2 linked regions of the Homo sapiens genome follow. The protein of the gene in region 2 interacts with the protein of the main gene of each other region in a pairwise test. Each region holds a gene or a part of one and is shown on either strand. Other genes may lie near its edges.

Evidence for each region.
Region 1: the proteins of AMH (region 2) and ARL8B interact in a two-hybrid assay, tested with the Homo sapiens proteins (one large-scale study listed by BioGRID and IntAct).

What each region holds. Positions count from the first base shown.
Region 1 is NC_000003.12:5,167,076-5,170,887, reverse strand, and holds part of ARL8B (ADP-ribosylation factor-like protein 8B), read right to left. Parts: intron 386-3,812; coding exon 305-385; intron 1-304. UniProt on the Homo sapiens protein: Small GTPase which cycles between active GTP-bound and inactive GDP-bound states.
Region 2 is NC_000019.10:2,247,551-2,251,462, reverse strand, and holds the start of AMH (muellerian-inhibiting factor preproprotein), read right to left. Parts: upstream 2,141-3,912; 5' UTR 2,131-2,140; coding exon 1,719-2,130; intron 1,127-1,718; coding exon 984-1,126; intron 825-983; exon of another isoform or gene 812-824; coding exon 703-811; intron 615-702; coding exon 455-614; intron 365-454; coding exon 1-364. Other genes in the region: SF3A2 (splicing factor 3A subunit 2), read right to left, coding at 2,917-3,696, 3,801-3,869. UniProt on the Homo sapiens protein: Plays an important role in several reproductive functions. Induces Muellerian duct regression during male fetal sexual differentiation. Also plays a role in Leydig cell differentiation and function.

The sequences.
Region 1 (3,812 bases), on a different chromosome or scaffold from region 2:
GTGGTGGCACAAGCCTGTCATCTTAGCTATTTTGGAGGCTGAGGCAGGAGAATCACTTGAACCGGGAGGTAGAGGTTGCAGTGAGTGGAGATCGCGACACTGCACTCCAGCCTGGGTGAAAGAGCAAAACTCTGTTTCCAAAAAAAAAACAAAAAAACAACAACAAAAAAACCTATTCTTTTGAAACATGCACATTCATTACTGAAAAACTGCAAATTTTCAGTAAAAACACAGAAATTTAACAGAAAAATTTCTAGGGGTCTGTGCTAACAATTTAAATTGCGTACGGCAAGAAATAACTTACCTTTATTGTGACGTTACCTTTAGTTACCTTCCTCATGTTGAAGCCCACTGTGGGTATCATATCTTCACTGAATTGACCTGACTGAACAAAATAAAACATTTGAAGTTAGGCTACTCACTTATAATGACACTGCATAAACTTCTAATATCAACATTGCATTTGTAACCATTTTAGTAAATATTTTTTTACCATTGGTAACAATCTACTTTAAGAACATGTTCCTTATGGCCATAATTCTTGAAGAGATGCATTATTTTGTCCCAACAAAGATATATTCTTCCATCTAAAAAAGATATTTTTGAAACTAATGTAATTTTTTACATATTTCCTTATGCTAAAAGAATTTTATATGACAAATACATACGAAAATTTTTAAATGTGTTCACCTAGATGTACATTTCCACAAAGTAGATGAGATCAGAAATAAAACTTTCAGCATTTAAATTATTCTGACAGTAACTATTAAAATTCACTGCTAAACAGCATTTCCAAGTCTGTCTTTTAATAAGGCTTATAAAATATTTTGTCATACAGAAGTTTTTCCTTTTATGTAATCAATTTTGTTCTCTTTTTGGTTACTTATCTCAATGTCATGAGTATTGTCTGCTATGGCCTTATGCTAGCCACATACACATGTATTCCAAAATTGTCTTAAATCTTGAGCACAACGAATTCCAACTGTACAAATAACTTCCTATACAGAACTCGAATTGTGCCTCTTTTAACTGTTCAGTGGAGTTTTATTAACTTCAGAAAAAATGTTAACACAGCCATAGTCACTACTTTCACTTATATAAGACATTATAATTCTCAGGACTTTCACATATGTGATTATATGTGAAAATCTAGTCATTCTATCTAAACTAGTTATATCAAAAGTAAGCCATGATAAAAGATAAATGGCCAATGAACTCATGAAAAGACGTTCGACTCACTAATCATTAGGGAAATGCAAATCAAACCCACAAAGAGATACCACCTAACATCCAGTAGGATGGCTACTATTAAGAGGAAAAGAAAAAAAACAGAAAGCACTGGAAAGAATGCAGAGAAATAGGAACTCTTGTATACTGCTGGCAGGAAGGCAAAATGGTATAGCTGCTATGAAAAATGGTATAGCAGTTCCTGAAAAACCTAAAAATAGAATTATCATATGATCCAGCAATTCAACTTCTGAATATACACTCAAAAGAAATGAAGACATTTTGCTAAATGAAATGAGCCAGAAGTCTCACACACTCACACACACACACACACACACACACACACACACACACAAACACTGTATTTCACTTTATGAGGTACCTAAAATAGTCAAATTCATAAAGACAGAAGATATTAATTTGCTTAATGGGTATGGAGTTTCAGTTTGAAAAGATAACAAATTTCTAGAAGTGGACAGTGGTGATGGTTACACAATGTGAATGTACTTAACACTACTGAATTGCACACTTAAAAATGACTAAGATGATACTTTGTGTTTTATGTATTTTACCAAAATTTTTAAAAAACTAGTCATCATACAGGGAGGGACAATTATCATTATCATTTCATAGAACAGGTAGTAGAGTCCCAAGGTCACATGGCTAAATCGTGATTATATTTTTCTTAAATATTTTCATTGTAATTATATTTATTGTGATAGGCTTTAATCTCTGAGGAGAGATCTACGTGAGATAATGCTCATTTATTTCATATCATTAAGTGTTTTACATAATGAAGAGGCAGGAAAAATAGTAGCTAAAATTTTTAGGTACCAAACTTTACAACTAGCTTGCATGGAAAGCTTTCTAAAAGGCAATATACACTTGGCTAACTTCCCACAAACAACCTATAGAACATGATTTAATGTGTTCTCAATGTTTCTGGGTCAGTTTATCTATTGCAAAACAAGAAAACTAAATTAGATAACACTCAAGGGCCCTCCCTATTGGAGGTAAAGTTTTATGATTATGAACATCAACTACAGCACTTCATAATAAAATAATGTAGGGGGCTGCAGTATACTGGGGTACCCCCGAGCTTTCTCAGGGGTTCATTTATCTCTTTTCTTTACCTTGGCCAACCCTAACAACTTTCCTGTAACTCAGCTGCTACTGCTAACATGCAAAAACCGAAAATTAGCTAATCAAGTCCTTGAGTTTTTACTCCAAAATTCTTGAGTAGAGCAAGATATTCAATAAATATTTGTTGAACAAACTAAGAGTTATTAGGGCCAGGCATAGTGGCTCAAGCTTGTAATTCCAGCACTTTGGGAGGCTGAGACAGGCAGGTTGCTGCGGCCCAGGAGTTCAAGACTAGCCTGGGTGACACGGCAAAACCTTCTCTCTACAAATACAAAAATTAGCCAGGCATGGTTATATGCACCTGTAGTCCCAGCTACTAGGGAGGCTGAGGTGGGAGGATTGCTTGAGCCTGGGAGGTGGAGGTTGAGATCTTAAGAACGATATGACTTTAAGACAAGATTGTGCCACTGTACTCCAGCCTAGACAATAGAGTGAGAGCATGTCTCAAAAAAAACATAGGCCATGAAGGAGGAAAATGCTGGAACTCTTCTGCCAATAAAGTGCTTAACTTTGATGCATGAATTTTGTGCAATAATTACTTTATGGACCTGGAAGTATTTTCTACTTCTTTCCTAGTGTCCAATCTTAATCATCACTTTTCAAAGCTTGTGTTGAACAACTATAACCACTCAGTTGGCAACTGGGCACTAGATACCTGAGAATTTATGTCTGAGCTGTCAAGAAGCTGCTTAATTAAGACTACAGGTTTGGGAAACAGATGTTTAGAAAATACTACTTAGTAGTATATCATTCTACTTATTTTAACAAATTTAACAAACACGTAATACTAAGCACTTAACATTCATCAGCATAGTTTAATCCTTATAACAACCCAATGAAATGAGTAGCATTATCTTCATTTCTCAGATGAGAAAAACAAGGCAAAGTCAGCTTAAGTCACTTGCCTAAAGTCACATTGTTCTTAAGATCTGGATAATTATGAGTTAATCTGACTTGGGGGGGAAAGAGTAGAAAAATAAAAGTAAGTAGTCCCTCCTTATCCTTGGGGGATACGTTCCAAGAACCCCAGTGGATGCCTGACATCACAGATAGAACCTAACCCTATGTACACTATGTTTTTCCCAATACATACATACCTATGATAAAGCTTAATTTATAAATTAGGCACAGTACTCTTCTGCTTTAGAGTCATTATTATTTCAGAGGTTGATCATAGGTAACTGAAACTGGAAAGCAAAACCATGGATAAGAGGGACTACTGTATGCTTTCATGCCTGCCTTCTTAAATGCCATGATCACACGTGGCACTCGCTGTGATTCTGTGATGGCAGATGGAGCTGTCACTGTCATAATGCTTACCCTCCTATAAGCCAAAGTTGCAAGGCAGTGTACCTGGAACTTGGTTGAACAAAATAAATCTGAAGCAAAATAAGATGGTGAAAAGAAGATTATTCTCAAAGTCAGGGAATCTTATTAACAAT
Region 2 (3,912 bases):
CAGACCCGGGAGGCTTCGCAGCTCGGCAGCCGCCGCTTGCAGTTCAGCAGCCACGCGGCGCGCCAGGGCCGTGGCCCACGGCGCCGACGTGGGGTCGTGCAGGGGCGCAGGATCCCCGGTGGTGGCCGCAGTGGGCCTCAGCAGCAGCAGCAGCGGCTCCTCGCCGTCGAGTAGGCGCTCCAGCGCCGCGGGGTCCGACAGGTTGACTAGGCCCTGCGGGAAGCCGGCCAGCGCGTCCGGATCCAGGGCCAGGCGCGGCGCGGAGGCCCGGGCCGGGGGGACCCGCAGCGCCCGCACCAGGCGCGTGAGCGTCTCCAGGAAGGGGTCTGCGCTGGGTGGCGACTCCTCGAGTTCCGCGGATGGCCTGGAACCCGCAATTGGAGGAGTTGAGAGCGGCCACGAGGCCACGCCGCCCCCGCCCGCTCCTGCCCCGTGTCCCGGTGCCTGCGCGCACCTGGGCGGCGGGAAGGGCACGGTGTCCAGCTGGCCGTGCGCAGGCAGCGGCGCGGGCTCGGACCGCGGCAGCAGGAGCAGGGCCGGGGTCATCCGTGTGAAGCAGCGGTGGTCGTCGCCGAACAGCAGTGCCTGCAGCCGGGCGGTACTCAGCCGGGAGTCTGCGGTGGGTGGGCACGCGGCTGGCTCAGGGGCTGGGGGCCCGGGGGCAGTCGACCCGGCTCCCCGTCCCTCTCCACGCGGACCTACCCTCTCCGCGGGGCTGCAGGGTCAAGGCCAGCCCGGAGCCGCGCCAGGCCCCCGCAGGGCGGTCCACCGCTAACACCAGGTAGCGGGTGTCTCGGGAGGGGCAGAGGCTCTGCGGAGACCAGGGCTCAGCCCGGCTGGATGGAGGCTTACCCAGCCCCGCTCTACCGGTCCCCTTCCTCCCATCGCCACTGGTTCTACGCTGTTCTCAGTACTGCAGACCCTGCAACAAATCCATGCCCCCCGCCACGGCCCGGGCACTGCCCCATGCAACTCCCTGGTACCTGGGCACCCGGCAGCCCAGCCCTCGTCACAGTGACCTCAGGGCCAGGCCCAGGGTACAGCACCAGCAGCGCCAGCTCTGGGGGGCCAGCTCCTCCAGGCGGGGGCTCCTGGAACCTCAGCGAGGGTGTTGGCTCCCAGGTCACTGCAGCCGGGACAGCAGGGGACGCCTGAGCCATTGAAGGCCACACCCCCCGGGAATCTTTGGGATCTGTCCCTGCCGCTCTGGCCACTGTGCAGGGGACCTCAAGCGGGGGACAAGGGTGCCCCTCTTAGCTGCCTTCCTGCAGCCAGGGAGCGGTGACGGCAGGGGCAGGCAGGGGCTGCGTCTGAGGCTGTGGGTGGGGCTGCCGCCCTGGGGTCTCTGGGTTGGGGTGCCCGATGAAGCCCCTTCCCCGCAGGGAGTATCTTAGGCCAGCGGCCCTGAGAACAGGCTGGGGCTGTGGGAAGAAGGGTTCCACTGGCCCCGAGCCCTGCGTCGTCTTCAGGGGTGGGGAGAAGGCAGCAGCTCTCTCCCTGGCACCGAGGCAGGGGCAAGTCTAAGAGCTGGGCTTCGGGGACAGGACAGAGTGTGGTGCCCACCTTCCAGGCCACGGACCCGCAACCCAGTCCTAGGAACAAGACCACAGCCTCCCTGCCCAGGGTGGGGGCTCTGCCAGCCCCTGATCTTCCCTAGGAGGACCCGGCCCACCTGAAGGAAGACGGCGGTGCCAAGCTTGGGGCTGGGCCCCACATACCTTCCTCCAGGTGTAGGACCACCAGGCGCTGCCCCCCAGGGTCCCGCAGCCAGGCCCCCAGCCGCCGTAGAGAGGGCAAGGCAGCCTGCCTGTCACCGGTGTTGCAGACCCCGAAGGTGGCCAGGTCTCGGGGGCCCCAGCGGGCCCTCTGCACGGCCCCCAGGAAGGCCTGCTCATAGGCGCTTAGAGCCCCCACCACCCGCAGGGGGGAGCTGCTGCCATTGCTGTCCCCGCCCAGTGCCACCAGGCACAGAGGCTCTTGTGGGCTGCCTGGAGGCCAGTCCAAGTCTTCTCGGAAGATGAGGCCACTGGTGCCCACAGCTGGCTCCTCTGCTCTGAGGGCCTCAGTCCCCAGCAGAGCCCCCAGGGCAGACAGCACTAGGGCCAGGCTGGTGAGAGGCAGGTCCCGCATCGTGGGTGCTGCCAGGGGCTGGGCTGCCTGCCTTAAGTGAGCCGAGTGGAAGGTGGGGTGTTTGTGCAGGACAGACCCCTATCTCCTCTGCCGCGACCTTGGGGGACAGTGCCCGGCGCCCCCACTCCAGGCAGAGTGGCCTTCTCAAAGAGCCCTTTCTGTCCCTGGCAGCCTATCTCCCTCCCCAGTGATAGAGCTGGGCCTGATGTGTCAACATGCCGTCCTTGAGGGCCATCCCCAGAAGACACAGGAGTGGGAACCAGGCTGGGAGTGACGGCCAGGCAACCAAACTAGACAGCGCTGGGGGCGGGGGGCCCAGATGTCCTGGGTGCTGAGGTGTGGGCCTGGAGGAGGAGGGTCCCAAGTCAGTGGGGGCGCCCTGTCCCTGCTCACCCTCCCCACCCCTGGTGGGCTATCTGGAGACCCCAAGGATATCGTGGAGTCTGCTCTTCCCTCCCCAGAACAGGACCCCAGATCCCCTCCTAGCTGGCTGGTGGGGTCTGTCCTCCACCAGGCCATCTCCAAGGTACAGCCATCTCTCAGGCCTCCCACAGGTGTCTCCTGGCGGGCCCCAGGCCCTCCCCAGTCGGCCCAAACTGGGGGATGGTGCTGTGCCTGGCACTCCCACACACACTGACACAGTAGGGCGGCGCTGCGGACATCAGTGCACTCAGGGCTGGGGGAGGCTGTTTAATGAGCGGGGGGCAGTACAAAAGAGCAGCCTTCTCTCAGTGGGAAAAGGCAAGAGCACCTGGCGCTGGGCTTGCTGGGGGAGGGAGCAGCTTCTCAGTTGGTTGGGGGAGGGGGAGGTATGTTCCCTGGGCCTTCGGAGGGAAGTGGGGGCCTCAGCATTGGGGGCATGGGAGTTGGGGGGTGCACCCCAGGATTTGAGGGGTGAACTCCCGGAGGCTGAGGGTGGACCCCAGGAGCCGACGGATGGACCCCGGGAGGTTGGGGGTGGACCCCCGGGGCCTGAGGGTGCATCCCTGGGGCTGGTGGGTGCACCCCTGGGGCCTGAGGGTGAACGGCGGGGGCTGCTGGGTGCACCCCCGGGGCCTGGGGGTGAACCCCCGCTGATGGGGGAGGATGGACCCCTGGGGCTGGTGGGTGAACCCCAGGGGCTGGTGGGTGGACTCCGGGGGCTGGTGGGTGAACCCCGGGGGCTGGAGGGTGGACTCCAGGAGCTGGGGGGTGGACCCCAGAGGTTGGTGGGTGGACCCCAGGGGCTGGGGGATGGACGCCAGGAGCTGGGGGGTGGACGCCAGGAGCTGGGGGATGGACCCCAGATGCAGGGGGATGCACCACTGGGGCCGGGGGGTGGACCCCTGGAGCTGGCGGGGGTAGCTGGGGTGGTCCCGGGGGCCCTGAGGGCGCAGGCCCTGTGGGGGGCATGGGTGGCAGAGGCAGGCCTCCTGGCGGGGGCGGTGGCAAAGACTCAGGCAGCGGTGGCCGAGGGGGCAGACCGTTCATCAGCGGGGGTGGAGGCCGCTTCACCCCAGGGGGGCCAGCAGGGAGGCTGGGTGGAGCCGGGGGCTTCTCCATCTTAAAGTGGAACTGGAGGAAGAACTAGAGAGACGGAGAAAGGTTCAGCAGGCACGGGTGGGGCTAGGGCAGGGCTAGGGCCGCCAGGGCTGGGTGGGAAGGAGCCAGGCTCGGGGCGAGCCACTCACCTGCTTGGTCTCCCGGTTCCAGTGTGTCCAGAACTTGCCCTCCGCCTTGTCGATCTCTCTGCTCGGCACCTGGGAGGGCGGGGGACAGAGAGGGCTCCTGGTCCCTGTGACC